Linked DNA regions of Homo sapiens. The protein of the gene in region 1 interacts with the protein of each later gene in a biochemical or structural test. Each region holds a gene or a part of one and is shown in the gene's direction. Other genes may lie near its edges.

Region 1 (3,828 bases):
TTAATTACATCAGCAAAAACCCTATTTCCAAATAAGCTCACATTCACAAGTGTGGGGGTAGGACTTGAACATATCTTTTTGGGGGACACAATTCAACCCATTACAATAATTATCTGTTGAATCGAATATCCCACTGTTCTCTTACAAGATCATGTGCTAGCAAGCTTGTGCAACCCGCCTTATTTTGTTGTTTTTGTTCTGTTTTGTTTTGCTTTAGGTTTTTAGCAGCTTGAAGCCGTGGTTTTTAGTTTCTGTTTCTAGTGATAAGCAGAAAAGAGCGATGGGGAAGGGACTTTACTGGCCCAATCAGAAACAGAAACTAAGAACCCATGACTGTATTCTCTTCCTTGGACATCCCCGAGTGTCCCAGGACTTAGTCCTGTAACCTTTTCTCTTTTATCCACTTTCATTCCCTAAATATTTTTATCTGTGCTTTAAATGCCTTCTATATGGAGATGACGTCCACGTTTTTATTTCAAGGCCTGATATCTCCCCTGAACTGCAGACCCCTATATCTGACATCTCCAACATGTCTGATGAGATTAGACAAATTTATCATGTCTGAAACAAAACAGTTTTCCTCTGGCCAACTCACTCCAGCTCCAGTCTATCATATCTCAGGATAGGACACTATTATTCAAAGAATCGCCTTTTATTTCTCTTTTCCTTTCATCTATACTTCCAATCCATCAGCAACTCAAGTTGGTCCTGTCTTAAAATCCTAAACCTGAACTGTTCTTAAGCCACCATTGCCAATATTCTGGTCAAATTTATATCTTTTCCAGACTGAAAGTCTCCTAGCTGGCTTTTCTTCTTCCACTCTTGTCCCGCTACAGTCTGTTTTCCACGTAATAATTTGTACGATATTTTTCAAACAAAGCATGGTCATACTCCTGCTGAAAACTCTCCAATGTCTTCCCATCAAACTGCAAACCTTTAGGGCCCTTTATGCTCTGGCCTCCATCTACTTCTCTGATCTCCTCCCCTACCAGTCTCCTCCTTGGTAATTTTGCTCCAATCTTAATGGATTTCTTACCAGTTCTCCATCAAACCAAGTCTGCACCCCCCTTTTGGAGTTTTTTCCTTGTGTTTCCAGCTACCTTGAGAATTTCTTTCCCCATGTTTTTAGATAGCTCCCTTCTTGTCTCTTTTCAAGTCTCTTAATTACCACCTTCTCTAAGTGGTCTTCTCTAGTCACTTTACCCATGAGTGGATTTGCTGGATAGCCATCCTAGCTCTTTGGAAAAATGAAGTCATTTTTAAGCATTAATTTAAAATATGTAGGAGTGTAAGTTGGAAAAGTAACATTGATAAAGGTAGATGTAACATGTTCACATTTCTTAGTGTATTTTGTTGGTAGAAGCTCAAAACATTGAAAGTGCAATTAGTACTATGTGTATTTGACACACACACACACATACACATACACACATATATATATTTCAAAACAATGAATTATATCTTTTTGGATGTGAACAGTCTTCTTAATAAACAGTCCAATTAAAATAAGCCAGATGTGTTTGTAATTGACTTTGAATGTTGCACTTTAGACCAATGTAAATTCACCATCATATTGCATTTTAATGACTGGCAAATAAAAAGCTAAGGTCAAGAGATGTTTTATTTTTCTTTTACTTTTGCAATGGCATGAAACACTCATGAAAGGGTAAATCTAATACATGAAATTATTAAGAAGACATGCTATTTCCCCCCACAAGCTTAATAAAATTAAAAATTTTAGTAAGTAGTATGCTTCTAAAAGGCTTTCAGCAGTTATACCAGCAAACTGAAGCCTAGTTGTCTATTTCAGAAACTTCAGAATTTCCAGATTTTTCAGATATGTGTAAGAGCTGAATAGAAATTAAAGCAACAGAAAATGGAAGAGAAAACAAATCGGTTAGAGCTACTCTATTATGAAGAGATTTTTAACCCCATATCAAAAAAATATTTGCCACCACTACTCTGGACATAATATTTTTCATTACTATGTCACAGAATACAAATCTTTGATTCACTTTGAAATGAAAGCCACAAATACAGAACTAAGTCCCATACCTTAAGGAGCAAAAAAGGTGAATATTTTGCCAAAATTCTTCTCGCCTCAATAAAGGATAAGAAGGTCATGCCTAATAAAACAGTAACTGTTGAAATTCAGGAATTTGCCAAGAACATCAGTTTGATGTATTTGTTTCAAAGAGAGGAATTCAACATCCTTATAAGAGAAAGGTTGTATGTGTTCCATCCCACAGCCATGATCTATGTACTATGCCCAAGAAGGACCCACAAAAGTGGAAGCTCAGCTTTGTGATGGCCCAATCTCTGTTTTCCTCCTCATACAGTATCGGTTCGCCTTGTTGCTTCTTAAAGTATTGTGCTCCTGTTTATTTAAAGGATTCTTACTTTCAGAGTGCTCTGGGGAGGGAGTGGTAAAGATGTGAAGTGAGCCTTGGCAGCTGCCTAAAACCAAAACCTTCATGCCTACCATCTTATAGTCAGTAATTCCTTGGTGACATCTAACACAAGCAAGAGAAGCGTGTGGTGTGTTTAAACAGAAATCTATCAAACTTTTTTTGTCCTTATATATATATCCTCTTAAAAAATTACAGAAATACTCCTTTTGAATGCACAAATTCAGATTATTGTTACTTAGCAACAGAGGTTGAATGCTTGTTACACATTGTGAAATTGTACTATATTCCCTCAAAAGGAGAAAAGTTTCTCATTTATCTAGCTTCTAAAAATTCTAAGATATTAAGTCATATTTGTTTTTAATGTATCTCCTGATTGTTCTGGGCGATTTGTGAAGGATTTTGAATTGTTAAAGCTAGCACATATGTTATATGTACACAAGTTATGAAGCATAATAGTAAAACAAACACCCATGAAGCCACCTCCAAACTGAATTACGTATCTCATCCTGCCAGATTCATCCTCCAAATACAACTATCCTCAGTTCAGTTTTTATTGCATTGTTTACTTACCTTAAAAAGAAATGGGTTTTTGCCTACTTATATGTCTCAAAATAATATACCGCTGAGTTCTGCTTATATTTTGTGCCTATGATAAAAGAGTTATGAGACTATCTGTAGTCTGGTCACTTCCTTCTTAAACTCAGTTTTCTTACAAATGCCCACTAATTTATATTCTTCTGAAATATTTTATATTGGCAATATATGTTATATTAAGGTTTATTATAAAGCTGTAGTAATTAAAATAGCATTACATTTGTGTAGAGATAGGTGAATTGTTCAAGGGAACAGGATGGAGAGCCTAAAGACAGGTTCCTGCATATATGGAAAGCTGATTTATAATTGGAGGTAGCATTGCCAACTACATATTCTTTGGCTCATACAATTTCCACAAGCTATACTAGCACGTGTATACAGAGGTCTGTGTTGAAGGATGTTCATTACAGCCTTAATTATAATAGCCAAATATTATGAACAATCTTAATGTCTGTGAATATAATGCTTTAGAATATTAAAATATCTGTTACATATATTATAACTATAAAATGAAAACTATGCAACGGTTTAAAAGGAAAAAAAAACAAGAGACACTGATCCTCTATAACACTGCAGTTGGGACTGATAACTTAGTATACTCTCTGGGAAGAAATTTGGCAATATGTATCACAATTTACAATATGCAGATGTGACAGATTTCAGTACCTTGAACATCTTTTGAAGGGTGTGCACTCAGGTTGTAAATTTTATTGCTTGAAAAACAACAAAAAAGTTAGAATAAACTTACATGTCTGTCAATGGGAAAGTAGCTAAATAAATTATGAAATACAGTTAAGCAATTTTTTAAAATGAGATAGGGAAA
Region 2 (3,828 bases), on another chromosome or scaffold:
GTTGGCTCTTCATTAAAGTTGGTATATTTTAATTATGGTATTTAAGAACTGGTCTGGCTGAAGCTGATTTCCAAGCTACTAGAATGTAAGTGATCTTCACTTATCTGGGAAATTGTCCCTCTGGACTGAACTAAAGCTCACTCTGATAGTTTCTTTCCATCACTGAAAGTACAAATATAGTCTGGAAATAACTTTACTGAGAATTTTATTTTCTTCTGTTGGCCATTGACATCACATTCATTCATTCACTCACTTAGCAAATATTTATTAAGTGCATACTGTGTGCCAGGCAGTGTTCCAGGCTCTGAGGATACAGCAGTGAACAAAGTCATGGCCCTCTGGGATCACTTATTCTGAAGGATGGGGGTAGGAATATATATAATATGTATAGATAATATAATATATAATATGTATAGATAGTGTAATATGTAATATGTGAGATGGTGATAAGTACTAACAAGAAAGTAAAGTAGAGAAGAAATCTAAGAAATGCTGGGCATTTGGGGGTGAGGGGTTGTATTTTCTTTTTAAAGGATGGCCAGGGAAGACCTCACTGAGAAGGTGGCATTCATATAAAGACCCAAAGGAAGTCAGGAATAGGAGGAAGAGAGAAGTACAGCCTATTTATCTTCTTTCTTTAATACAGTAAGTTAGCTACTTGTGTTGCCCAAGCTACCAAAATTGGATTAATTTCTAAAGAACCCTCAACAGATAATTAAATATCAACCATTTTATGAGGCATGTAAGTGTAGGTGGCAGGGGCTAGGAGAGGGGGGAGACAGGAAAATATAGTAGTGGTGTCCTGCTATTTAAAAAACAAACCCTTTTCAGAGAGTCCCTTATTCTCATTATCCTTAAGAGAGGAGGTTGGATTGTTTTCCCTACCAGCCTGCCTCCTGCTGTATCTTACAATGAAATCTTCAGCCACAACTGCGTTTGCTGTCTCTTCCTATGAAATAACTCTCAGAATGCTTAATTTGACTTCCTATAGGTTGAGTAGAAATGGGCTGAGAGGCAGGGAGCCTTAACATAATATGGGGAGACAAAGAGGACTATAAAACAAGAAGGTAAATGGTGTGAGCTCAAGTGTCTTGGGTATTGCTAGGTTCTTTCCAGTTTGAACATCCCTTATTACTGGTTTCCTGAAGTCTTCTTATGTCCCTGCTCTGCCTGTAGTTTGCTGAGAATGAGGCTTCTGCATTGTTGGATCCCAATTTTACCTAAGCATGGAGCTTTGACTTTTCTAACTAATTCTTTAATTTTTTGATACTTGGCCATTAGACTCTGACATATTACCTTATAGAATGAATTCAGCAAATAAATTATAATTCATGATATTAATTTTCATTCTCCACCCTCAGCATCTGTGAGCGGGTAACTCCCCGGCTATCCCATGCCAACTCAGCAGTGGTGCTTTCAGCGGTAAAAGTCCTAATGAAGTTTCTAGAATTGTTACCTAAGGATTCTGACTACTACAATATGCTGCTGAAGAAGTTAGCCCCTCCACTTGTCACTTTGCTGTCTGGGGAGCCAGAAGTGCAGTATGTCGCCCTGAGGAACATCAACTTAATTGTCCAGAAAAGGTTGGGAAATAGCGAAGTGTTGATTAAAGTGTTTGTAATTTTGCATTAAGCTTAATAATGTCAATGTTAATTAGGCTAGTGTTAATCTCTTTTTAATATATGGAAATGAAAATGTTATATGGCAGAAAAACTTGCTTGCCTAGCACCAGGAGGCTAACAGTTGATATTACAGTGTTTCTATAATAAATGCCATGCGTTGCTCCACAATCCAGTTTGTTTTCTGAAGGGTCTCTTTCTGATATACTGTCTAGTGCCTGGTTGATATGGTTCAGGCTGTAGTTTAGAGCCAGATTGTTGTTCTAGCAGTTCTTCATGGCAACATGTGCCCTGATGCTTAAAAAGGATAAAAATAATCTGCCAAGTGGAACTGATAAGAATAGAGGCGTATAGAGGAAGTTTATGCTTTTTTTTTTTTTTTTTTTTTTTTGCCTGAGTGGAGCGAGAGGAGAGCAGAGAGGCACAGATTAGGTATTAATACAGTCTCAGAAGGGTATATCAGTATATGCCTTCACCTTCCTTTCTTCTGTTTCTGTGTACCCTAGGCCTGAAATCTTGAAGCAGGAAATCAAAGTCTTCTTTGTGAAGTACAATGATCCCATCTATGTTAAACTAGAGAAGTTGGACATCATGATTCGTTTGGCATCTCAAGCCAACATTGCTCAGGTCAGACTTTATGCAGACTCAAGTTGATGATGATTTAGCTCTTAAGGTCTGGCCTTTAAAGAAGCTAGGCTGTGAGATTGCTATTTGAGAATCCTTAATGATTAACCACTTCCTGGGTTTAACAGGTTCTGGCAGAACTGAAAGAATATGCTACAGAGGTGGATGTTGACTTTGTTCGAAAAGCTGTGCGGGCCATTGGACGGTGTGCCATCAAGGTGGAGGCAAGTGTCTGATGGTAGTTAGGATCATGTATTGGGGATTCTGAGAGTTCTCTTCACTTTTTTCTTTAAAATAATTTTTAAGTTTATCAAAATAATAAAGCACACAGTTTCAATGTTAAAGAATTTTTAATGGAAAGCAGCTGTCTCTGGTTCCTCCCTTCCCTACCTAGACTTTCTTCTCAGAGGGAATATTTTTAACTCTGATTTTGCTTTTAGTTATTCTTTTGATTAAAATAGGTCCTCCATATCCATGAGTTCCACATCCGTGGATTCAGCTAACTGCGGATCAAAAATATTCAGGGGAAAAGAAAAAGGATGGTTTTGTCTGTACTGAACATGTACAGACCTTTTTTTGTCTATATTCCTTAAAAATATAACAATTATTTACATAGTATTTACATTGCATTAGGTATTATAAATAATCTAGAGATGGTTTAAAGTATACAAGAGAATGTGTATAAATGCAAATACTATACCATTTTATGTAAGGCACTTAAGCATCCATGGATTTTGGTATCCACAGGGGCCCAGGAACCAATCTCCCATGGATTTGGAGACATGACTGGGCTGCCATATCTCTAAATAATATTCTTGGCTGGGTGCAGTGGCTCACACCTGTAATCCCAGCACTTTGGGAGGCCAAGGTGAGAGGACTGCTTGAGCCCAGCAGTTTGAGACCACCCTAGGCAACATAGTAAGGCTCTGTTTCTACAAAAACTTTTTTAAGTTAGCTGGGTGTGGTGGCACACACCTGTAGTCCCAGCTACTTGGAAGGCTGAGGCAGGAAGATTGCTTGAGTCTGGGAGGCTGAGACTGTAGTAAGCTGTTATTGTGCCACTGCACTCCAACCTGAAACCTTTTCACTCTGGGTGACAGAGCAAGACGCTGTCTCAAAAAAAGAACAACAATAATATTCTTATGCTATTATTTATTAATTTACCTATCATAGACTTTTTCTGTTAACTATCTGCTATAAGAAGTTTACTTCATACACCCACCATTCCCACTTCCGTCTCCTGTTTTCCAGTGTAGTTACATAATGAAGGTTTTTGTTCCTATATCCATTATCATGGTAGATTGAAATAATATGCCTTTGTTTCTTATTCTATCAACTGTTGGCTTGCAAAATTTATGCATATTACGACTGTGTAAATATTTAGGGCCAATGTAATGCAAATGATTACATTTTCTTTCTTATAGCATCTTTTTTTTTTCTGGAGGTTTTTTGTTTTGTTTTGATTTTTGAGACAGAGTCTCTGTTGCCCAGGCTGGAGTGCAGTGGTATGATCTCGGCTCACTGCAACCTCTGCCTCCCGGGCTCAAGCGACTCTTATGCCTCAGCCTCCTGAGTAGCTGGGATT

What was found.
Region 2: the proteins of CCDC91 (region 1) and AP2B1 interact in a surface display test, tested with the Homo sapiens proteins (one large-scale study listed by IntAct).

Annotation. Positions count from the first base shown.
Region 1 is NC_000012.12:28,543,205-28,547,032, forward strand, and holds part of CCDC91 (coiled-coil domain-containing protein 91), read left to right. Parts: intron 1-3,828. UniProt on the Homo sapiens protein: Involved in the regulation of membrane traffic through the trans-Golgi network (TGN). Functions in close cooperation with the GGAs in the sorting of hydrolases to lysosomes.
Region 2 is NC_000017.11:35,625,260-35,629,087, forward strand, and holds part of AP2B1 (AP-2 complex subunit beta), read left to right. Parts: intron 1-1,361; coding exon 1,362-1,583; intron 1,584-2,125; coding exon 2,126-2,246; intron 2,247-2,371; coding exon 2,372-2,467; intron 2,468-3,828. UniProt on the Homo sapiens protein: Component of the adaptor protein complex 2 (AP-2). Adaptor protein complexes function in protein transport via transport vesicles in different membrane traffic pathways.